7 linked regions of the Homo sapiens genome follow. The protein of the gene in region 6 purifies or fractionates together with the protein of the main gene of each other region. This does not show direct contact. Each region holds a gene or a part of one and is shown on either strand. Other genes may lie near its edges. The genes, in order: EHMT1, ZNF644, TFDP1, ACAD11, PEX14, MIER2 and PHLDB3.

Region 1 (3,500 bases), on a different chromosome or scaffold from region 6:
TCGTACCAGCAGCGCATGCTGAGCTGGCCGCACATGCAGTTGCTGGAGGAGCAGTCGTCGATGCACACGCAGTACTGAGAAGAGAGGCGCCGGGGGGTCAGACGTGCAGGCACAGGCCTTCCATTTCCCCTCCCAGTCACAACTACGTCTTCCAGTTCTGTTAACCCTGATTCTGGTAAGTGCTTCTCAAAGGCACCACGTGAGTGTGTGGCCTCTTAGGGAGAAGGCTGTGCAGGCAGAAACATGTCGAGTGCCTGTGGGAGGGAGCTCTGGCTGAGGACCCTGACAGAGGGACAGGGGGCAGGCAGGGCAGCGACGCGGCAGTGGGTGACGTGGGGTGGGTGAAGGGCTGGGCGGCGGCTGCATTTGTGGCCAGATGCTCGATGGGAAAGGCAAGAACACAGAGCCTGACACACCTTGTGGGGCGGGGGGCGGGGGGGGGGGGGGGCCTGGGCAGTGCCCGGCCTGGGAAGAGGAGGGAGCTGCCCACAAGCAGAGCCACAAGGAAAGTGCTCGAGAAGGCGCAAGCAGTGAGGGCACCAGGCTGCATGCACTCGGAGGCTGGGAAAGCTGGCATGTGCTGGACCCATCTCTCCGGGGGCTGGGAGGTGCAGGGATCCAGGTCGTCCTGCAGGCCTCGCAAGGGCTCCTCTCGCCTGTGCCCCCAGCACGAAGCCACACCGGGGCCCCTGAGTGTGAGGTTACAAAAAAGGCACAAAGATGCCTGCCACTGCTTTGGGTCGGTAAGAAGCCTTGGAAGAGCAATGAGAGGGCCCAGGGCTGGGCCTGACAGAACCTTTATCTGCCTTCCAGCTCTTTCACGGGAGGCAACTACAAAGAGAATGAGGTCTTCCTGGGAAGCCCCCCATAAGCCCTCCTGCTCTGAGTGGTGAGAACCCAGGACCCCAGGCTCAAGAAGCTTCTGCCTGTCCCATGTCCTGGCCTGAGTCAGCCCTTCATCTGCCGTCACTCACCTGCAGATGAGTGATATTTCTGTCGATGTTCATGGGGGACGTCACGCAGTTCTGAGAGACGTACTTGTAGTTGCTGGGGCATGGCTCGCTGTCCACGGCGTTGACACAGGGGATGGGGATGCGCTCGTAGCCTCGAGCGATGTCCCTGCCATGGAAAGGACAGGTGTCACCTGGTGGCTGACGTGCTCTGCCCAGGGGGTGGCACAGCGTGCAGTGGGGCGGCTGGCAAACACCTGGCCCTGACAATTTGGACTGCAGCCTGGGGATGTTTCGGCTTCAGGAGCAGCTTTCACCGCAAGTTCCCAAAGCCCTGCTGACCGCTGATTTGCCACAAAGCCGTCCTGGGGCTGGGCTCACCTGCTCACTATCCTCTCCACGGGGCTGGGCCTGTCGGGGGCCGAGTCCTGCAGAGCCTTGCTCATCTGCAGAGCGCTCCACACCTGAGAGTTGAGGCTCGCACACTGCAGGGGCGTCTCTCCTTCCTTGTTCTTTAAGGTGACATCTGAATCCCGAGAAAGAAAGAGGCTAAAAGGGAAAATGTAAGGCCACAAAACATTTAAAGCTGACTTGAAAATGTGATACAGATGAGATTTATAAAATGTCCGTCATCACTAACAATAAAGGGAACACTATTCACTGTGAGATAACTTGAACAAGTCTGCTCAGCAATGACTCTGCAAAGACGGGCTTTAGCTCACCCAGGAACATGATTCCCTTCCTCCTCTCCCACATTCACTGTCAAAGTCAGCAGGCTGTTTTCTTAGCAGGAAGAGTGTAAAATCCAGGGCGGCATTTGATTTTTCTTGGATTTTTCATTCAAATTTACCCTCAAGGATAAGAAGGGAAGCAAGGAGGGAGAGAGGCCAAGCTTGGGCCACGCACAGCGTGAGCAGTCCTCAGTTCCACTCCTGCTCACTGCATCCAGACTGCAGTCATCGTACGTGGAGCTGGGCTTCACACAACCAGATGACCAACCTGGCTGAGCCACCGTGAGATCCACATGTGGGAGGGCACAGCCCCATGTGTAGGGGCCAGGGAGTCACTGGAGGCTGGTGCCTGGAGCACCCACAGTTCCCTGTCCTTCCCCAGCAGCCAAACACACACTCCATCCCAGGCCACCAACAACAACCTGAGTGTGGATGACTTTATGGGATCAAGGTCTCAAGCTTTTTTTGTTTTTTGGGTTTTTTTTGAGACAGAATCTCACTCTGTCGCCCAGGTTGGAGTGTAGCGTCGCAATCTCCACTCACTGCAATCTCTTGCCTCCTGGGTTCAAGCGATTCGCCTGCCTCAGCCTCTGGAGTAGCTGGGGTTACAGGCACATGCCACCATGGCCGGCTAATTTTTGTATTTTAGTAGAGATGGGGTTTCACCATGTTGGCCAGGCTAGTCTCAAACTCCTGACCTCAGGTGATCTGCCTGCCTCAGCCTCCCAAAGTGCTGGGATTACAGGCGTGAGCCACCACCACCCAGCTGAAGGTCTCAAGTTTTAAAAGGGCCCTGAGTGGCGAGTGCCACAGCCCCCAGCAACTCCAGCCCTGGCTGTGGGTGGCACTGCTCCCAGAAGGCACCCTGAGCCTCTCGGGGACTCTGAGCTGGCAGGTCCCTGCTGGGAGCAGGGCTGTTCCCATGCTGCCCCTCAGCCATGTGAGGAGTATCAGGTCTGAGACTCCAACTTGGGAATTTTTTCATGACAATCCTCCCTAACCCAGAAATAAACCACAGCTGATCTCAAACGTGGACTGGGAAAGACACTTCTCTGCGTGTGGAACACCAAGGATGGACTTCCACACGAAGGAACAGAGGGCCTGTGTCCACTCACGCCCCAAGTGTGAACACAAGACTGTCAAGCGGTCTCTCTGGGCGCCCAGGTCAGGTCAGCGCCAGCCCGCGCTGGGGGAAGCACTGCACTCACACGACACAGTCGTAGCGGTTCTCCCGGGCGGCAATGTGCAGTGGCGAGTCTCCGTGGATGTTCACGGCGTGGAGGTCGCACTTGGCAGCCAGCAGGATCTCGGCTATGTCCACGCAGCCGGAGAACGCCGCCCAGTGCAGGCAAATGTTCTCCTCCTGAACAGACACAAGCCAGAGCTCAGTGCAGGCTTCCTGCTGGCTCACAGTGCTGGGGCTGGGCCACAGCAGCTGCAGCCCATGTGCCCGGGGAGAGGCTCTGGAGCATGCGTGGCCGTCCGCAGCAGGGCCAGGTGGAAAGGGTGCCACAGGTCACCGGATGGGAACCTAGCGCCCATCTCAACTCTGGAAGGCACTTCGTTTCATGTTTTGTTTGTTTCATTGTAAAAATAACATAATTATAAAAGTAGCATAATCACAGTAAAGAATAAAAATAGGGAAAAGGTCATCCAGAATTATATCAACCTACACTCAACATATTAACACTTGGAGGCACTTTTCTTTCATGTATTTTTAAAAATTATATTCATTTCCAAGCAGGGGTATAGTCATAGGATAGGATAATGCTTTTGAAAGATTTGAAAAAAGGACGTGCAAATTTGATTAAATTAAAAT
Region 2 (3,500 bases), on a different chromosome or scaffold from region 6:
AATACTTAAAAAAAAAAAGGAGTTCACTCACATTAAAGCTGGAATTAAGACTAACAACTGTAGCTTATCATACATAATAAGGATAGTAAAAAATAACCACAAAGAAGCAAAGTATTCTAATGATTGCGTTGTAAAAGACATCAGATTTTAAGCAGTCTGCTATCAATCTAGACTTAATGAACCTAATATTTAGTAATGGCTTTTATTTTCTTTTTATTTACAGGCTATGCTGATGTTAGTTTGTAGCAAACTATAAAGAAATTTACCATAAGGAAATATTTATCCTAAAAAAATAGTATGAAGGGAAAAAAAGGCAAATAATCTGATTATTCAATATTAAATAACTTTGACTGTAATACCTAAAACACAAAGGTATGTTAATTGATGGAACTGATGGACTTAACAGTAAAAAATAAAAATCTTCACATATATTCTCCAACAGAACTTAAGTTGTAATGAAGGTGATATTTCAAACCTTTGAGCACTCTCACAATTTAAAAAATGCCCAGTAAAATAAATACCACTTTCCACCAATTAGACTAGCAAGGATAAAACAAATATTTAGCAGAATGTGGGAAAACAGATATTCTCATAAACTAGCAATAAGAGTATTAAGTGGTACAACCTCATTGCAGTTTTATTACATCAGAAGTTAAAGGGCACATATCCTTGATCCAGCAATCTACTGCTACAAATTATCCTGACACTCTCACACACTCCCGTTAATACCATCAAAAATATTTATTGCAGCAGTACTTATATACAGGCAAAAAATCCTGAGACTTACCTAAATATTAATAAGGTAACAGTTATAATAAATGTGGTAAATATATGGAAAAATGTCCAAAATATATTGATAAGCAGAAAGAAAAAGATGTAGAATACATACCAGCTATTTTTGGTAACTTATGGGGAGTATAGTGCTGGGTGGGAGAGAAGAGTTTTACTTTTTACTTTAAACATTGCTGTACTATTTGCTCATAAGGTCACATGTGACTTTTATAAAAAATTTATATTTTGAAAATACTAAATGTGGCCAGGTGCAGTGGCTCACGCCTATCATCCCAGCACTTTGGGAGGCTGAGGCCGGTGGATCGCCTGAGGTCAGGAGTTTGAGACCAGCGTGGCCAACACAGTGAAACCCCATCTCTACTAAAAATACTAAAATTAGCCAGGTGTGGTGGCATGCACCTATAGTCCCAGCTACTCAGGAGGCTGAGGCAGGAGAAACGCATGAACTCAGGAGGCGGAGGTTGCAGGGAGCCAAAATAGTGCCATTGCACTCCAGCCTGGGCAACAAGAGCAAAACTTTGTCTTAAAAAAAAAAAAAAAAGTGAAATACTAAATACTAACTGTTACTTGGCAATACAGCTGGAAAGGGTCAATGTACGTTGTACAATCTCATCTAGAATGAAGGACAAAGAATTTTATTAATTAAAAAGTCTTCTTTTTCATGCTACAACAAAGGGCAGCACATCTACAATGCTACTAAAGAAACTGAAGTACAGAGAGGTTAAGTTAGAAATTAGAGAAATTAATCTAAGACAAATATCCATAAAGAATTTCAAATCCTTGGATTCGGGGATTCTGCAGTCTTAGCAGCAGCTGCCTATGTTAAATATTGAAGCACAAAATGAAGACGAAGACTCTGCAACGGAGGTACAGCTAGCAGCCTCTGAGAAGAAAAATTAGTCTAAAGTCTTTGTGGAGACATGTAAGTTAGGCAATCTCAAGGTTAAATTTCTCTGGCTCCTCAACTCTAACCAACAACATGACTAAACACACTTCACAATCAGGATTTAAAAAAAAAAAAAAAGAACCAAGGTCTATATACGGTAAGAATCTATGTCTAAGAAAACCCTTGTGGGAAGACAGAAGGAACAGCATGAGAAAATGTCAACGTCTAACTCTGTGTTCAAACATTATGGCAGAAGCTGCAGAAAGGAAAAGCAACAAATTGATCCCTGTGGGGAAGAACCTCTTCTTGCTTTGGACTTGCTAGAGGGCAATCAAGCTTCAGGCATAAAAATCTCCAGATGATTACTATAGCCAACCCAACTAGCCAAATTTCAAACACAGAAAAAAAAAGAACCACTAGTCAAAATGCTTTAAAATTTAAGAAGTGTGTTATTTCTTAAGAGAGTATATTGTTTAGGCCAGGTGCAGTGGCTCACACCTGTAATCCCAGCACTTCGGAAGGCTAAGGAGGGTGGGTCACCTGAGGTCAGGAGTTCGAGACTAGCCTGACGAACATAGTGAAACCCCATCTCTACTTAAAAAATACAAATTTAGCTGGGTGTGGTGTCGCATGCCTGTAATCCCAGCTACTTGGGAGGCTGAGGCAGGAGAATTGCTTGAACCTGGGAGGCAGAGGTTGCAGTGAGCTGAGACTGTGCCATTGCATTCCCACCTGGGCAACAAGAGCGAAACTCCATCTCAAAAACAAAACAAAAAAAGTATATAGTTTATATATGCTACATTACATATCTACAATTTAAAAAAATTTAAGTACCTTTAAACAAATAGCAAGCTTCCTAAGCTGTGGGAATCAAAAATGTTATCACAGTTCCAGGCTATGATTCTACAATTTCTTCCTCCATCCTAACAGTTTTTTACCTTCAGAGAAATAAGGAAAAGTTTTCTTCACTTCTTACACGTGTGACTAGTGTTCCCAATCTTCTACTTGTATTAGTCTAACATTCCAAAATCTTTAAAGAAATAACTAGTACAAACCCACAAAGAAAATACTCTTCATAGCAAACACTTCAAATTTCTGCAACATGGATTAATACCTCCACTTGGAAATACTAATCAAAATCAACAATGACAGTCTTACTTTAGGTCTGAATTAAGAATATTTTACTAGCCACTGTATTTCAACTGGATTGAATGAAGACTTGGGAAATATTTTATTTCTCTTTCTAAAATGTCTATAATGCTGTCTGTGGATTATCCTCAGTGGCTCCTTCCTATGGCCCAACAGCAACTCAAGTGCCAATGCCCCCATCCCATTCCAGCTAGCATTCTGAATCTCTATTTGCCTGGGAGAACTCTTTTCATTGGTCAATGTTTAACAAAACATTTACTGAATGCACACAGTATTCCCAGCACTGTGCTAAGATAAACGAGACATGGATGGTATCTACCTTCAAACTCATACTCTAATAAAGAAGACAAACTACGGCCAGGCATGGCTTAAAGGATCAGATGATGCTTCAGATAGGCTATTTCAGAAGATAAGCTGACAACTAGCAAAGAGGTCTCTGGCAACTGGGGAGGCATGGGATTGAGGGAAAGTGACAACATGTACCTAGGACTAGAACTAGGAATATGAAACATCATACTTAGTTTATTCATATAATCCTCAGCATTCTGGCATAGCTACGGTGAGATAACTGCATGCCGTGTTATAAGGTTTACTACATTTTATTCTGAAAGTGATGGGGGACAATTAAAGAGACAGGTAGAAGAAGGAAAAGAGTATAAAAAAGTTAGCAAGT
Region 3 (3,500 bases), on a different chromosome or scaffold from region 6:
GCTGGGGGCCATTCCTCACACAGCCACGCCAGGTTGTCTGGGCATTGCTGACCTGTCACGTATGGCTCCAGAGCCTTGGGGACCAGACTTCTGGCCATTTTAAGGTCTTCGGCAGAGCAGCTCCCCGACTCCAGCCCGCAAGCCATGCCCATCCGCTTCAGCACTTCTATGTCATCGTGGATTTCAAATGTGTTGTCAAAATTAAACAGATACTCAAATCTGAAGGGGAAAGGCACAGTCAGAAAGACAGGGTCTCCCAGCGGAGACGGTACACACTGGGGTGGAGCCAGGACGGCTGACCCGCTGACCGCCACACACAGCTTCCCGGTTCCCAGTCATCAGTGTCTCCTCACAGAATTTATAAACTCTGAAGTAAATGAGATGAGAGGCAAATCGAGGCCTATTCTCCCCAGGAGGACATGCCCTAAGGCACACGCTCCCGGAACAGAGACCTTCCATCTGCCACATGGCGGCAGCCTCCCACCACCCCCCAATGGACAGCAATTTGTGCAACATTTGCTATTTGTACAACATTTAAAACTTGTCCTAGTGACAATACCAACAGGGTCGGCTCCCTAAAAAAGAGATGGGTGACCAGGGAACAGCTCCCCGCCCACAACCTACTTGTCATTGGAGATGCTGCAGTCGATGACCGTCTTCTTGCTGGTGTTGACGATGATGAAGGGCAGGTGGATGACTGAGTTGGGTGGCGGTGGCCGGCTGGCCTGCTGCTCCGCATGCCGGTTTCTCTGCACCAGGTTCTTGAAGGCAATTTGCTAAAAAAAATAAGAGGAGCCAGGTGGCCCGTGGCGGCACAAGAACGCAGCCCCTGTGCTCGAGGGGTCCTCACAGCCCTCCCTGCGTCCACGTGACAGCGAGGAGTTGGCCTGGACATCTGAAATGCCAGCGCCGGCCGCTGGGTGCTGACCTCTGCAGCCCAGGGAGAAAAGCGCTCAGGAAACGGGATCCTGAGGGGAGAACTAAGGGAAAGCGGGCGCACAGCCATCCGTGCCCTGATAAAAGTGTCCTCCACGGCAACGGCGCTCAACAAAACACCAATTTTGGAAGTCGATTCCTTGCTGTCCTTCACCCCTCTAAGACCACCTACCACCATGGCACCTACAGGGTGATGGCCTTGGAGGGGGTGCCGTGCCGTGGACTTTGCCCACCCTGGAAAGTGGAACGCAGAAGGGCCCATGTGCTGCAGGGGTGCTCCTCTGGGGGAATAGGCCCTGCAAGGCTGAATCCAGGGCCAGGGCCTCAGGGCCCCAAACCAAGTGTTCCACTTGGAGAGACCTTCTTTGCTATTAATGTAGAGCCAGGAGATTCCCTTCCTCTCCCGGCCACCCTGGGTCTATCCCCACCTGGCAGGTCCTAAGGCACTGGCAACCAGGACTGTCCCTCCTGACACTCTGTGGGTCCTGAGGAGCTCCTGCCCACGAGCCTCCATCACCACGGCTGCCACACCGTCCCCTCTGGGAGGGCTCGAGCACACCTTGGTCAGGGCAGCAGCCAGCTCTGCAGTGAGCACCTTGCACACAACCCCCTCCACACCAGACACGGGGCCCCCAGTGGTGCCGCCCACCCTCAGCACTCAATGGGAGGTGGGGAAGGCCAGCTCCAGGGCCCTGATCAGCACTGTCAAGACCCAGGTGCACTGTGTCCACCACAGTTTTACAGGCCTTGCCTGGCACCTGGGCCTTGGGTTAAGCACCTCTGAGGAGATTTTTCAAATGTTGCTTTTGCATGAAGTCATCCCTCCATCTGTCTTTTGCCTATTTAGATGCTGTGACGAGAGATACACACATACACATGTATGCACACATGCACACACACACACGCACACAGGCACATGCACGCACACACATGCACACGCACACAGGCACACGCACGCACGCACACAGGCACATGCACACACACACACATGCATGCATGCACGCACACACACATGCATGCACACGCACGTGCACAACCTCGCTCTGGGAATAAGGCCCACGTTCAACACCTATGAGATGAACTCACACTCAGAATCTTAGAGCAGTCATTTGATTTGCCATGCAGGAGTGTAACCCAAGGCAGTATGTTGCCGTTATAAAGCTAAATTAGTAAAATAAAAATTACCCTGCCTCCACAGATACGTATTCTCTTACCTGTAGAATAAGTTCTTGAAGTTGAGACTGTTTCTGTTTTATTCTTTCAAGTCTCCTCTGTCTTTCCACCTTCAAAAACAAACCACCCATGTGAAGAATCATCACAACTGTTCCACAGAGCGTTTTTTAAAACCCACATCCTCACATCCTCACAGTGTTACCTATGTTTACCCAGAATGTAATCGAAGGGATATGGACAAATCTAGACATAGCAGGTGCTACAAGATATAGGTGAGTTTTTTTTCCATTTCTAAACTATACCTTCTCCCCTTTCCTCTCATTTCTTGGATTTAACTATGGTATCTAAAAAGAAAACAAAAATCCCACAAACTAGGATTCAGAATTAACCTACACTAGAGTTTAACAGACTCTAGTGGGTCTGGGCCAACCATGCTCCCTCCCCTGACAGCCAAGACTGAGAAACGCAGGGAGACGTCTGCATGACCGTCTGCCAGCCGGACACAGAGAGCATAAGGGCACGGAGCCCAGACCCTTCTGAGTGACCGACGACTAAAACATCTACACGGACTTGAAGGGAAATCAAGGTTGAAGGAAGGCTGAAGGGGCACCTCTAAGTTCTGACATTCCTGAGCCGAGTTGGTGGGCAGACCAATCCACTTGATCTCCTTCTTCTCCTTGGAGATGATGTTCATGGCCATTAGCACGTTTAAGGCATCGTAGACGCGCCGTCTTATGTTTTTCTGGTCATAAGCCTGGGGATGACAGGGAGTGGAGTTTCCAAATGATCCAAAAAGGCCGGTGGATCCTTAAACTGTAGACCATGGGCACTGGCTCAAAGGGGCACCCCGCTCACGGAGCCGCCACCCCAACATGCCCTCAGGGAGCGCTCCCACCCCACAGATGACGCAGGGCAAGACGGGGCTGTGCGAAGCCTGAGTGTGTTCCAGAAGGAGAGCCGGGGGCTCTCGGGTGTCGAGCCCAGCTGGTGAGGTGGGCATTTGTGCATTTCTGGGCCGCTAGACGTGCAGAGCCAGCCCACGTGCTCACTCACTGGAGTTGACAAAGCATCGTGCCAGCAAATGGATCGGAAAAATTCTTTTATGCTGTACTTGGCATTTTCTGTATGGTTTTAACTGTTCCCGATATTAAAAGAGCGAAACGTACCACACCGCTGGGCTCCGCCACCCCAGCCTCTCGGCCCCGGCACACACTTACTGACTCGTTTGGTAAAAATTCTTTTATGCTGTACTTGGCATTTTCTGTATGGTTTTAACTGTTCCCGATATTAAAAGAGCGAAACGTACCACACCGCTGGGCTCCGCCACCCCAGCCTCTCGGCCCCCGGCACACACTTACTGACTCGTTTGGTAAGATGTGGTTGTCGGCAGC
Region 4 (3,500 bases), on a different chromosome or scaffold from region 6:
ATGGTGCTGGGATAACTTGCTAGCCATCTGCAGGGGATTGAAACTGCGCACCTTCCTTACATCTTAGCCATTTTTTTGACGTTTAATTGTCCTTTTATTTTCCTTTCTTTTCTTCTTTATTATTTTAAGTTCCGGGATACAAGTGCAAAATGTGTAGGTTTGTTACATAGGTATACAGGTGCCATGGTGGTTTGCTACACTTATCTACACGTCATCTAGGTTGTAAGCCCTGCATGCATTAGCTATTTGTCCTAATGCTCTCCCTCTCCTTGCCCCCACCCTCCAACTGGCCCCGGTGTGTGTTGTTCCCCTCCCCATGTCCATGTGTTCTTATTGTTCATCTCCCCACTTATGAGTGAGAACATGCACACCTTGGCCATTTTTATGCTTGGTCATGTTTGCCCTTCAACAGGGGATATTTGATTAGAGTTTCCCTAAAGCGGTGATGTTCAACATGATAGCTACTAACCATATGTGGCTAATGAGCATTTGAAACATACCTAGTCTGAACTGAGATGTACTATAAGTATAAAATATGCACCCCATATTGAAGAATAAATATTAAAATATAAAGTATCTCATTAATAATTTTTATATTGATTTCATGTTGAAATAGTATTTTTGATATATTGGGTTAAATAAAATATATTATTAAAATTAATTCCATCTTTTTCTTTTCACTTTTTAAAAATGTTGCTATTAGAACATTTAAAATAACATTTAAGGTTCATAGTATATTTCTTTTGGATGGCACTGCCCTAGAGGTTGAAACATGGCTCTGAATTAATTTCAAACAAGTTGCTGGTGGTGAATAAATATTTTTTGATGGCTGTAAAACAGGATAATTACAACTTTATAACTTCATGAACAGACTTAGAAGACATTTACTTCTCAGCTTTAGAATAAAGGAGGTATTCTCAGTTGGGTCTCTATAGACCCTAGATTTGCTGAAAAGCATTAAATGGGTAGAAACTAGGTGCTCTAGGGAACTGCCAAATATATTTCCTAAGACAGAACTGGGATGGAGAATTTTTTGCGTTACAGCCTGGAGTAAATTAGAAGGCAGCTGGAAGGAGCCTCCAAATTCAAAGAAATGAAATGTTCCTTTCACAAATTAAAATAAAAAAGCTGGCCCAGATTTTTGCTTATGACATGCTCACACATCTTTTTGTTTCTGCCAGATCACGTTATTTGTGCCAGATGTGAAAAGTTTCCAGTGAAAACAGGCATATTTGTTAAAAAGCCAGGCTTGCTCTGCATGACACATTAACTTTAAAAGGTGGAAGGGAAATTTTTTACTAATGCAGTATTAAAACACCACTCAGGAAAGCAGCACTTGCACAGAGGGCTTTTGTGCATTCGCGATGCTTGTTTGTCGACTTTACTGTGTCCTCCCTTCACCCTGCTCCAGAGTTTGCATGCAAGCTTGACAAAAGGGTAAGAAGTAATGGTTGGTGCCCTGAGCACCTCTTCATCCTTCTTCAACAGCATCAGAGGCTGTATCCAGGGCCCCAGAGGGTCACACTTTCTCACCTCCTCCCACAGTGCCCAGCCAACAGCTGAACTTTGCTGTATACTAAAAACTTGCCTTCGCTGTATACTAAAAGGGCTCCTGACAAATTATTCCCAGGTGTAGTGTCATAAAGCGGGCTGTAGCTTTTCAGTTAAAAAACTATACAAATAAATCATATAATGCTGAATAATACTTTACAAAAAGCAAACATAGATTATAATAATTTAAGGTAAAAAATACATACTGCAAATTTCATAAGATGGTCAAAAATGTATAAGGAGACCGACATACTAAAATATACATGTGCAGCAAACACAAATACAATTCCATCACCACAGATTTGACCTAACACTAACATGTTAGCAATAATAAAGAGTGAACATTTAATAATAGTTTTTCTTGCCTTCTTAAAACTTAGAAGGGAGATGATGTGGATATCCTACTTCTCTGTAGAAGACTTTTTAAGGAAGTCTGAAATAATACCTTCTATTTCATCTCAATACATATTTCCTAATTTTTTTTCTTTTTCTGGAGACAGAGTCTCGCTCTGTCGCCAGGCTGGAGTGCAGTGGCACGATCTTGGCTGAACGCAACCTCTGTCTCCCGGGTTCAAGCAATACTCCTGCCTCAGCCTCCCCAGTAGCTGGGACTACAGGTGCACATCGCCATGCCTGGTTAATTTTTTTTGTTTTTTTTTGTATTTTAGTAGAGACGGGGTTTCACCATGTTGCCCAGGCTGGTCTTGAACTCCTGAGCTCAGGCAACCCACCCGCCTCGGTCTCCCAAAGTGCTGGGATTACAGGTGTGAGCCACTGCGCCTGGCCATATTTCCTAATTTTTATTATATGGGCCACATGTAACTATGTTTACAGTGATTTGTAACAACAGACTCAGTAGTATATAATTTACAGATGATAATTCAAAAAGTCATGAATATCTCACAAAATGTTGGTCCCATTTCTACTTGTGTTTCTCCAGTGACAGAATTCAAGTCCTCCTGAAGAAGCTGATTCCACTTTTAGGTTTATTAGCATGTTTCTCCTTTCCCTGAGTTTTGGGCTGTTTTCCTGTAACTTTACACTTATGTGTCCTAATTCCTTCTAGGAAACCAATGGACAAGGCAAATCCTTCTTCCTTATGACAGCTCCTTCATGTCCACAGGGAGCTCTAATGTTCCAGGTTCTCTAAAGAACAAGAATCTGAGAAAGTTGAAGGAACTGTCTACACTCTTGTGTGCAGAGGTGTTGAAGCATTTTAGGAACTATTTAATTTTTCATAAAGATAAATACCTCTCATTAGACTATATTTAAATACAGACATAAATATGCCTTATTGAAAAGAATCACCCGGTTCATGTAGAGAAAGTCTGTCTCTCACAAGTAATGTTTTTGTTCAATGTTAGTGTAGTGCACCGGGCTACAATAAATTCAAATAAGTAATCGTCCTCACATGTGCATACAACTTCTTCTTGAAAGCTATCCTTTGTGTTGCCCGCTCACACATGATCTGCAAAGCGCGTTCCGCCAAACCTACTGTTCTCATACAGTGGTGGATTCTGCCAGGTCCAAGGCGGCCTTGGGAAATTTCAAATCCCCTACCTTCACCTGGGAAGAAAGGGGAAAAAAAGGGGGAATGTGAAAATGGCCTAGCCCATTCCTTTTGTTATTTATACAAATCCTGGGAAAGAGATGAGCTGCCCTTAATAAAAATGGCTTTCTAGTGAAAAAAAGTCAGTTCTATAATAAGGTTCACTATGAATTCATGGGAATTTTGATTTCTATGTTTTTAAAACCACCACCATTAAACATTTCAAATTTCAGAACTGTCTCTTAAGTATGTACTATGCATAAGCTATTTTATTAATGCTGCAATAGATACAAAGTTGGAATAACACATAGTCCCTGTACTAGGAGTTTAGAATCCAGAAGAGTGGGTAAGGGTAAGAGATACAGAGAGAAACAAAGGCAAAGGAAGAAGAGATTTTCTG
Region 5 (3,154 bases), on a different chromosome or scaffold from region 6:
ATTAGCCGGGAGTGGTGGCGGGCGCCTGTAATCCCAGCTACTCGGGAGGCTGAGGCAGGAGAATGGCGTGAACCCGGGAGGCAGAGGTTGCAGTGAGCCGAGATCGTGCCACTGCACTGCAGCCTGGGCAACAGAGCGAGACTCCATCTCAAAAAAAAATAAAAATAAAAATAAATAAAACCAGGACAGTCCCAGGCAAAGCAGGACAAGTTGGTCACCCTACCTCTGAGGCTGCATTGGTGACAATGTGCTGTCGCTACAGAGGGACAACAGGGGGACAACCAAGAAGCCGGGGGGCAGGGCCTGCTTCTGCCCACGTCTTCAGTTGTGGAACCCTTCCAAGTACAAAACACAAAGACTCTCCCGCAGGGGCTTTCCCTGGGACAAAGCTGTCACTGAGTGGTCACCTGGAGCTCAGGAAGGAGGAGCCAAACCAGGAAGTTCTCCTCTGCTCCAAGGGCCCTGCTTTTTGGCTCAAGCTGTCCCTGACCAGGTCTTCACAGGCCTGGGAACTGTATTTCAAAACTTGTGTGCCACAGACCGTCACCTCTGGAGTGGAGAGGGTGTCAACTGGGGAATGAAGAGAGAAGCTCAAAAGGCCCCAGACTCAGTGCCTGAGTCGCCCAGACAGATGGGGTCCTTGGGGGTGGGGGTGGGCGTCATGCCCCTCCCATGCCCCAGAGCTCCCAGTCCTCCTTTCCAGGCCCGACCAGAACAGGGTCCCCATTCCTCCCTCCTACCGATTTAAAAGAAGCCCTTTCAAGGAGTTAATTTCGGACTTGAGTTCGTTGATATTCTGGGACTCCAGGATCCAGTTGGTGGATGTGGTGGCCTGAAAGCAGAGCACAGGGAGGCTCAGGGCGGGCGCCTTGCGGCACGGGCGGGGCCTGCGGCTGCAGGAGGACCTGGGTGGGGGCAGCAGGTGGGGCCTTCTGGGTCTGTTCTGGGGAACCCGGGGGAAGGTTCTGCCACTGCCCACTGCCTGCCACGTCTCTGGATGACAACATCCTTAAACATTCCCACAGCTCTGTTTGGACATCTGATGACGTAAGGAATCATTACGTGTTTTTAGGTGACATAATGGTATCGTGGGCGTCTTTTAGAGACATGCGGAGGCGTGCGGGTGCGGTATGAAGTGGGATGATGTCTGGGATTTAAGATGGTCCGGGGTGGAAAGAGGAAACAGCCACCATCTCTGACAAACCCCATCCTTCCATGCACACCTTTCCCCTTTGAAGGTAACACTGTTTTCCAAATAAACTTCACAGAACTACATCTTACTTCTGGAAAATCTTGCTGGTATAGACGGGGAAGAGGACAGCCAAACCAGAGGTCCCCAAATGCGAGCTGCTGGTGGCAACCTGCTTGTGGCATGTGCACAGAGGACAATGCCACGAGGCCTCCGTGTGAGGTCTACCTCGCCCAGGCTGAAGGCCACCCCAGGCCATCTTTAAGTGCACAGATGAATATTGCCAGCTCTCCTGATACTGCTCCCCCGAGGTGGGCAGAGGGGACGTTCCCTGGCTGTTCCCTACCAGTGTGCTGTGGGCCGCTGGCTGGCTTACAGAGGCCTGGCCTCTGACGTGGGGTCGGGGGCTGCTGTGGGCTCACCCCAGCAAGCAGTCCAGCTGGCACACCTTAGCAGGGAGAAGTCCTTCAGAGGGCCTGTAGGTCTCAGGAAGGAAAACCCGGGCAGTCTGAGAGTGAGTGCGTGTCACCCACCACCCCCAGACACAGCCCCTCAGGGTTCCTACTCCAGACCGCCAGACAGGGAGGACCCAGGAGCCACGGCTCTGGCTTCTCTGAGACCTTGAAAGCTACAGCAGCCCATGAACAAGGGCACAATTTCCACTCACTGGCCTACAAGGGACTCAGATTTCCAAACGCATATGGTGCCAGATGCCAGGATTTAGAAATAAAATCTGACATCTGGGGCTTTTTAGCCAGCCTCTTTAAAAAACAGTTGTAGAAAACTCATAGCCTTCAGTTTTATGTAGGTTTTTTAATTACTTAAAGCTCTTCTTTTTAATTTTTTACAGTGCTCCAGTAGGAGTTTGGAAGCCAGATATAAAAACTTACATTACAGCTGAGAAAACACAGCTCTGGGTCTTTGGTTTATGGGGTAACCAAAGTCCTCACACATACGCGTTTAGATGCCAAGCCAGTGGCCCCATGCAGCTCGGGAGAGAAGGCTGGGGTGGGCCAGGGACAGCGGCAGCAAAGCCAGCTCGAGGGACTCTGAGGGGCCCAACCCCTCTCACCACCAAGCACATCCCGGGCCCCCACTGCTTCTTAAACACAACATGTGGTCTTAATCTCAGGCGTAAGGCCTGAAAACAGTTTTCCAATTTCCGGAATGGCTTCTGGCCACAGGCAGAGCATGGATCCAAAAGATGACCTGACCCAGGAGAGCAGGCAGGGCTGTCGCTGGGCTTCCTGGTGCTTTAGGGACCGGCCACCCGTGGAGAACACGCATTGCAGTGGCTGGAGGTGGTCACCAGTACCCACAGCCATCCCAGGAGGAAGAGCAGGTGGCACCTCTGTGTGTGGTTTGGATATCCAGGGGGGAGATTCCTGGGACCCTCTTCACAAGAGACACCCCAGACTCCATGGAAAGATTGTCATTTTCATGGTTTTTGCAAATGCAAAAGATCTGAGTGCTGGCTCAAGCCAACTCGTACGCTAGGAGTGGCTTTCCCTGGGTAAGCAACTCGGGATGGGACTCTCCAGAGCCCAGGCTGTGGGGGCAGACAGGGAGCAGTGTCCGCCGGCCACAGAGCTGTGGGACAAGGGACAGAGAGAGGAGCCAGTGGGTGTTCTGGAGCTACCAGGCCACTGTCTCCTGGGCCCGGTCTGTCTGATACCGCCTCAGGGATGACCTCTGTTACCCACCCACAGAACCTAGGCCTGCAATCCTGCGAGCTGGCTGGAGCCAGGCACCCTCTTGAACCCATGAAGAGCCCCAGGAATTAGGTGCCGTTATGGCTCCATTTTACAGATGAGGAGACTAAGACTCAGAGAGGTTAAGTAACTTGCCTGTGGTCATACAGCTAACAAGTGGCAGGACCAGGATTCAGCCTGATCCTGGAAGCTGCCACGCCAAGATTTCTTCACATTTGGGCAGTGAGGCAAGGACACTGCCTTGGGAGTTGGT
Region 6 (3,500 bases):
ACAAAATCAATACATAAAAATCAATTTTATTTCTATATAAAAGCAACAAATACAAAAAGAACAATTCCATTTACAATAGCATCAAGGGAAGTGTGAAATGTGTACAGTACTCTGAGTGAACAAAGCAGTGTTGAAAGGAAGATCCAAGGGAATGTAAAGGCATCCCACGTTCATGGCTGAGAAGACAACATTAAGACGGCAACACCCCCCACTGATTGACAAATTCAACACCATGTCTATCAGAACCCCAGTTGGCTTCTTTGTAGAAACCCACGAGCCGATTTCAAAAGCATATGGAAGCTCAAGGTACCCCAAACAGCCCAAACAATCTTGAAACAATACTTCCTGATTTCAAAATTCACCACAGAGCCACAGCAATCAAAACAGTGTGGTACTGCCATAAGGACAGCACAAAGATCAACGAACTAGAACTGAGAATCCAGAAATACAGTCACACATTCATAGTCAACTGGATTTCCACAAAGGTATCAAAACAGTTCCATGAAGGAATGAACAGTCTTTAACAAATGGTACTGGGACAGTTGAATATCCATGTGCAAAAGAATGAAGTTGGACCCCTATCTCATACCATATGCAAAAATTACCTCAAAATGGATCAAAGGCCTTAAATATAAGAGCCAAAACCACACAACTTTTCGGAGAAAATATATGGATAAATATTTGTAACCTTTTGATTGAATCTAAAAATGTGGTGGGAAAAAAGTTTGTGACCTTGGATTTGGCAATGGTTTCTTAGATAAGACACCAAAATCACAAGTGACCAAAAAAAAAAAAAAAAACCAAATGGATAAACAACTTCACCAAAATTAAAAACTTTTGTGCTTCAAAGGACGCCCCCAAGAAAGTGAAAGGACAACTGAGAGAATAGGAGAAAATATCTGAAAAATAATCTATCTGATAAGGAACTTCTTCTCAGTATAAAGAACGTTTAAAACTCAATAAGGAAGAGAGAATCCCATTGAAAAATAGGCAAAGGATCTGAACAGACATTTCTCCAAAGAGGACAGACAAATGGCCAATAAGCACAGGAAAAGATACTCAATGTAATATCAGGCAAAAGCAAGCAAAGTCCACACTACGATACCACTTCCTAATCAGAGAATAAAAACTGTGCTCAAAAAGACAGTAACAAGTGTTGACAAGAACGTGGACAAAGTGGAACTCTCCTGTGCCCTGCCGGTGGGAATGTCAAAATAGTGCAGCCACTTTGGAAAATAGTCCAGCAATTCCTCCAAAAGTTAAATAGTATTTAACCATGTGACCCAGGTCAGGGTCCTAATATCCATCAGCTGACAAAAACAAAACAAAGCACTAGCAACGGGGCAAAGAAGGACGCACTGACACACTACCACATGGACGCACCTCGAAAGACTCATGCTCCTGAAACAGCCAGACACAAAAGGCCACGTGTCGTATGACTCATTTAATCTCAAATGTCTAGAGCAGGCAAATTCGTAGAGACAGAAAATGGATTCCTGGTGGAAAGGGGCTGGGAGTTGATCTGGGGTTTGGGGAGTGACCACTAAGGGGTGTGGGGTTCCTTTTGGGGTGATGAAAATGTTTTAAAATTGACTGTGATGGTGGCTGCACAACTGGGTGAATACACTAACAACCACTGAACTGGACACATTAAAACGGTGAACTGCATGGTAAATGAATTATACCTCGGGAAAGCTGCTGCCAAAAAGGGTAGATTAAAATATTTAATGAAGTTTAAAAACTTGTGTAGTAAGAATTTCAATACTTCTTCACGGGTCCTCAAGAAAAAACCTCACAGGTGGTATAATCATTCCCCTCACAAAAAAACAAGGAAACAAGCTCAAAGAGATAGAGTCAGTTACCCAAGCTCACACAGCAGGTTCAGTGGTGCAGTTACAAAGTGGAGCTCAGGCCAGCGGCTTGCAAACACCTTCCAGCCCATCACACTACTGGGGAACACAACGGCTAGTACAGTTGACCCTTGAACAACGCAGGGGTTACGGGTGCCAACCCTCCACACAGGTGAAAACCCATGCATGACTTCTGACTCCCCGACACTTGATTAATAGCCTCCTGCTGGTCGGGAGCACTGCCGATAACATCAACAGTTGATAAACACATATTTTATATATTGTATTATGTACTGTATTCTCACAAAAAAAGTAAACTACAGAAAAAGTTATTAAGAAAATTGTAAGAAAGAGAAAGTGTATTTACTATTCATTAAGTGGAAGTGGATCATCCTAAAGGTCTTCGTCCTCATCATCTTCACGTTGAGTAGGCTGAGGAGGAAGAGGAGGGGTTGGTCTTCCTGTCTCGGGGTGGCAGAGATGGAAGGAAATCCATGTATAAGTGACCCATGCAGTTCAAACCCGTGAGGTTCAAGGGCCAACTGTACAGCAACGTACAGCAAAGCCACGGAAGGGAGCTGGGGCAGCCACTGGCCCTGGAGTGACTCTGGCAACAAGGCTGCCAAGGACCAAGGAGCACCTCAAGCTCTAAGTGGAGACTGACAGGACCCATCCAGCTTTAGAAAGTTTAGCTCCGTGGTGGCAGAGGGCAAACAGAAGACAGAGGGAAGGAAGAGCCAGCAGGGCCCCCAGGGGGAAGGGGCCACGGGACTGGAAGCAAGCAGCACAGAGTGCATGGCAGCTGCAGGGGCATCTCACGCCTCCTGCCCTGGGGTTGGCCTGGGTCTGGCAGAGATGGCCTCACCTCTTTCCAGGACACAGCAGGTGGCCACCAGCCCACAACCACTCTACACAGCCACACGCGGTGTGAAGCCACAGGGAAAGCATCCTAAGTGACCTCTGAAATCACCCTCAGCCCCCTCTAGGACCCTCTGGGTAGGGGTCGAGGACAGGTTCTCTGGGCAACGGTTCCTGCCTCAGTCAGGGGCTGGCTTTCTACTCCCGCAACCAGGAGCCTGACTAACAAGGGGATGGCAGGCGACCACATCAAATGAGGCCCCAGTCTGGACGGCAAGTTGACAACAGTCCCGCAGGCTTGAGATCCACACCGAGTAACAGGGAGTTAACATATGGCCCCAGGAGAGGTGGTCTGCAGGGTCTGAGGAGGATCTGGCCCTTATATGACGTGCCATTTAACAGGAGAGCTAAGGCAGAGGGGGGCAAAGAGGGAAGCGGCTGGGAACGGCAGAAAGGGCCGCTAACAGGGAGGCCCTGAGCAGCCTGGGATCCCCAAGTTCATTTCCAGGCGACTCTGAGTTCCTGGAACTTACCACGGAATACAGACTTCATGGATCTTCTTCCTCCCGCTGCCCCTGCCTGGTGTCCAGGTGCAAGTCTACTCTCAAAGCAGGTTCCCAGGGACTCTACTTCACTCACTCAGAACACTCTGCATGTTTCCCTCTGAGTTCACTCCCAGGAAAGACAAAGTCCTCTGTTTTGTCAAAGTGGAAGCAGGAAAAAGAGGGGGAGCAGGCCAACGGTATTCCAGGCAACAAAAAAAGCAAAGGAAGCGTAAACAGCATTCTAGAA
Region 7 (3,072 bases), about 43 Mb from region 6:
AAGAATGAGGTGCAGCTGATTAAGGGAAGGAGGGGGGCCAGGCGTGGTGGCTCACACCTGTAATCTCAGCACCTTGGGAGGCTAAGGTGAGTGGATCGCTTAAGTCCAGGAGTTGGAGACCAGCCTGGGCAACACAGTGAGACCCCATCTCTATAAAAATAAATAGATAAAAGAAAAAAAGGGAAGAAAAGGGCAGAGGGAACAACGTAGGCAAAGGCCTAAAGGGGGGAAGCCTAGGAGTTCCTAGAAATTTCCAGCAGCCGGTCAGGCCAGAAAGGGTGGAAACAGAAGGGCCTACAAACTAAAAAAGCAAAACTGCCAAACACTAAGGGGGACATGCCTCTCACCCTCTTCTCCCAGCTATGACCTTAAGAGTTGAAGGCCTCCATTCCTAGAGAGCCGGCTGTGGGACGCGTGGCTCCCAGAGGTACCGATAACTCAGATGTCCTGCCTAGGGGTCAAGGGGCCCCGGATGCCTGGGCTGGAAACCACAGCAGCAATTCCTGTTTTTCCTCCGTATTTAATTCGGTATCACAGGAGCACCAATAAATAGTTTCTTCCCGCCCCTGCAATCTTCCTCCTGCCCCGGGCAGGGCCTTAGGGGCCGGCGATCCCGTCGGGGGCAAGGCACCTGCAACCCAGAACGCAGCAGCTCAGGCCAGCTGAACTGCCGCGCCTGCGGAATTCCCGGGAGAGTTCCAAAGCGGTGCGTCCAAGTTTTCCGGCAGTGGGCGGGGCCTAGGAACGCCCCCGCGCCCCGCGCCGGCGGAGCCTCGAAGGGACTTCCCCCCAAGAGGGCGGGGCCACTCAGGGGGCGTGGTTTTCGTCAGCGGCGGTCACGATGACGTCCATCCAAATGCGCATGGCTTCGGGGCTCGGAGCCACCATGTAGAAAAGGCGTTCGTAGGTTTTGACGCAGAAGGTCAGGCGGGGGTTGGGGCTCTGGAATAAGCAGAAAGTGAGGGTAATTCAGACAAAAGACACCGGCCACAGTCTGGGTGCGAACCCAGCCTTGCTACTTATAGTCTGTGTGGCACTGGACAAGGTACTTAAGTATCTGAATGTCAGTTTCCCTGTCTTCCCAAATGATGCCACCTACCTCACTGGGTTATAAGGATTAAATGAATTAACACAAGGAAGTGCTTAAAATTATCATATGTAGAGCGCTATTGATAAATTAGGGGCAAGATAAATTTTTTTTCTTTTTTTTTTGAAACTGAGTCTGGCTCTGTCGCCAGGCTGGAGTGCAGTGGCGCAATCTTGGCTCACTGCAACCTCCACCTCTCGAGTTCAAGCGATTCTCCTGCCTCAGCCTCCCGAGTAGCTGGGACTACAGGCGTGTGCCACCACGCCCAGCTAATTTTTGTATTTTTAGTACAGACCAGGGTTTCACAGTGTTTGTCAGGATGGTCTCGATCTCTTGACCTCGTGATCCGCCTGCTTCGGCCTCCCAGAGTGCTGGGCTTACAGGCGTGAGCCACTGTGCCAGGCCGAGAAATTTAAAAGTAGGACTTATGACGCCTTCTCTCAGCCTAACTTCTCCTATATTAGAAATACAGGCATTCAAATTCCACCTCCCCAAAATCTAGGTCCCCTTGTACCTGGGAAAAGTTAGTGTCTAGAATCCGTTATTTGAGTACCCACTTGCCAATCCCAAATTGAGTAAATCCCTTATGTCCATAATCTGTTTTTAGCCCTCTCAATAACCCTGATGGAATGGGTTGATGCGTACCCATTCTACACGTGAGAAAACTCAGGCCGGCCGGGCTGGGTGGCTCACGCCTGCAATCCCAGCACTTTGGGAGGTTGAAGCGGATTGATTGCTTGAACTCAGGAGTTCAAGACCAGCCTGGGCAACAGAGGGAGACCCCATCTCTACAAAAAAATACCAGAAAAACAAAACAAAACAAATTAGCTGGGTGTGGTGGCACACACATATAGTCCTAGCTACTCAGGAGGCTGAGGCAGGAGGATTGCTTGAGCCCGAGAGATAGAGGCTGCAGTGAGCTATGATTGTACCACTGCACTCCAGCCTGGTCTATGGAGCAAGAAAAAAAAAAAGAAAAAGAAACAAAGAAAACTAAGGCTAAAGGCTAAAGAAAGGAAGTCACTTTCCTGATGTCACATAGCTGAGATTCCAACCTAATTGCTAAAAAGCCACAGTTTGGTTATTCTCCACAGAGCTTTCTAAATATTGTATCAGTTGCCAACATTTAAATTTTTGGCACTGTGCTTTATACAAGTTCCAATTCCTGAGTTCTCTGGGAAAAAATAAATATAAGACAACACCATGGGACCCACTCCCACTTGGCAACTGTTGGCAGGAGCCAACTAACAACCATCTCCTTTATTTATTTTTCATTTAAAAAATAAAAAAAAAAAAACAGAGATGGGATCTTGCTATGTTGACCATGCTGGTCTCAAACTCCTGGCCTCCTGCAGTCCTCCCATCTTGGTCTCCCAAAATGTTGGGATTATAGGCATGAGCCACGACGCCTGGCAGATCATCTCCTTTAGATGCTCCCAGGCTGCCCGACCCTTGCTGTGACCTCTCCATTCATTTATTCCCAGTTGGACATCAGAGTCTGCCATATTTTGGCTCTAAAACTTTTGCTCCAAGAAAATTAACAGTGACAGGCCAGGTGCGGTGGCTCACGCCTGTAATCCGAGCACTTTGGGGGGCCAAGGTGGGCAGATCATGAGGTCAGGAGTTCGAGACCAGCCTGGCCAACACAGTGACACCCCATCTCAACTAAAAATACAAAAGTTAGCCAGCTGTGGTGGCACGCCTGTAATCCCAACTACTTGGGAGGCTGAGGCAGGAGAATCGCTTGAACCCGGGAGGCAGAGGTTGCAGTGAGCCAAGATGGCGCCACCGCACTCCAGCCTGGGCAACAGAGCCAGACTCCATCTAAAAAAAAAAAAAGAGCCACGTGTGGTGCGGTGGTTCACGCCTGTAATCCCAGAACTTTGAGAGGCTGAGGTGGGCAGATCATGAGGTCAGGAGTTTGAGACCAACCTGGCCAACACAGTGAAACCCCGTCTCTACTAAAAATACAAAAATTAGCCGGG

What was found.
Region 1: the proteins of MIER2 (region 6) and EHMT1 purify together in Homo sapiens (affinity purification with mass spectrometry; 3 studies listed by BioGRID and IntAct, with this or other methods). This does not show direct contact.
Region 2: the proteins of MIER2 (region 6) and ZNF644 purify together in Homo sapiens (affinity purification with mass spectrometry; 3 studies listed by BioGRID and IntAct, with this or other methods). This does not show direct contact.
Region 3: the proteins of MIER2 (region 6) and TFDP1 purify together in Homo sapiens (affinity purification with mass spectrometry; 3 studies listed by BioGRID and IntAct, with this or other methods). This does not show direct contact.
Region 4: the proteins of MIER2 (region 6) and ACAD11 purify together in Homo sapiens (affinity purification with mass spectrometry; 3 studies listed by BioGRID and IntAct, with this or other methods). This does not show direct contact.
Region 5: the proteins of MIER2 (region 6) and PEX14 purify together in Homo sapiens (affinity purification with mass spectrometry; 3 studies listed by BioGRID and IntAct, with this or other methods). This does not show direct contact.
Region 7: the proteins of MIER2 (region 6) and PHLDB3 purify together in Homo sapiens (affinity purification with mass spectrometry; 2 studies listed by BioGRID and IntAct, with this or other methods). This does not show direct contact.

Annotation. Positions count from the first base shown.
Region 1 is NC_000009.12:137,811,005-137,814,504, reverse strand, and holds part of EHMT1 (histone-lysine N-methyltransferase EHMT1), read right to left. Parts: intron 3,045-3,500; coding exon 2,890-3,044; intron 1,500-2,889; coding exon 1,332-1,499; intron 1,120-1,331; coding exon 975-1,119; intron 75-974; coding exon 1-74. UniProt on the Homo sapiens protein: Histone methyltransferase that specifically mono- and dimethylates 'Lys-9' of histone H3 (H3K9me1 and H3K9me2, respectively) in euchromatin.
Region 2 is NC_000001.11:90,977,036-90,980,535, forward strand, and holds part of ZNF644 (zinc finger protein 644), read right to left. Parts: intron 1-3,500.
Region 3 is NC_000013.11:113,633,253-113,636,752, reverse strand, and holds part of TFDP1 (transcription factor Dp-1), read right to left. Parts: coding exon 3,468-3,500; intron 2,864-3,467; coding exon 2,720-2,863; intron 2,220-2,719; coding exon 2,151-2,219; intron 777-2,150; coding exon 625-776; intron 220-624; coding exon 53-219; intron 1-52. UniProt on the Homo sapiens protein: Can stimulate E2F-dependent transcription.
Region 4 is NC_000003.12:132,572,810-132,576,309, forward strand, and holds part of ACAD11 (acyl-CoA dehydrogenase family member 11), read right to left. Parts: intron 3,118-3,500; coding exon 2,963-3,117; intron 1-2,962. UniProt on the Homo sapiens protein: Acyl-CoA dehydrogenase, that exhibits maximal activity towards saturated C22-CoA.
Region 5 is NC_000001.11:10,624,950-10,628,103, reverse strand, and holds part of PEX14 (peroxisomal membrane protein PEX14), read right to left. Parts: intron 833-3,154; coding exon 741-832; intron 1-740. UniProt on the Homo sapiens protein: Component of the PEX13-PEX14 docking complex, a translocon channel that specifically mediates the import of peroxisomal cargo proteins bound to PEX5 receptor.
Region 6 is NC_000019.10:338,297-341,796, forward strand, and holds part of MIER2 (mesoderm induction early response protein 2), read right to left. Parts: exon of another isoform or gene 2,218-3,500; intron 1-2,217. UniProt on the Homo sapiens protein: Transcriptional repressor.
Region 7 is NC_000019.10:43,474,603-43,477,674, forward strand, and holds the end of PHLDB3 (pleckstrin homology-like domain family B member 3), read right to left. Parts: intron 943-3,072; coding exon 808-942; 3' UTR 501-807; downstream 1-500.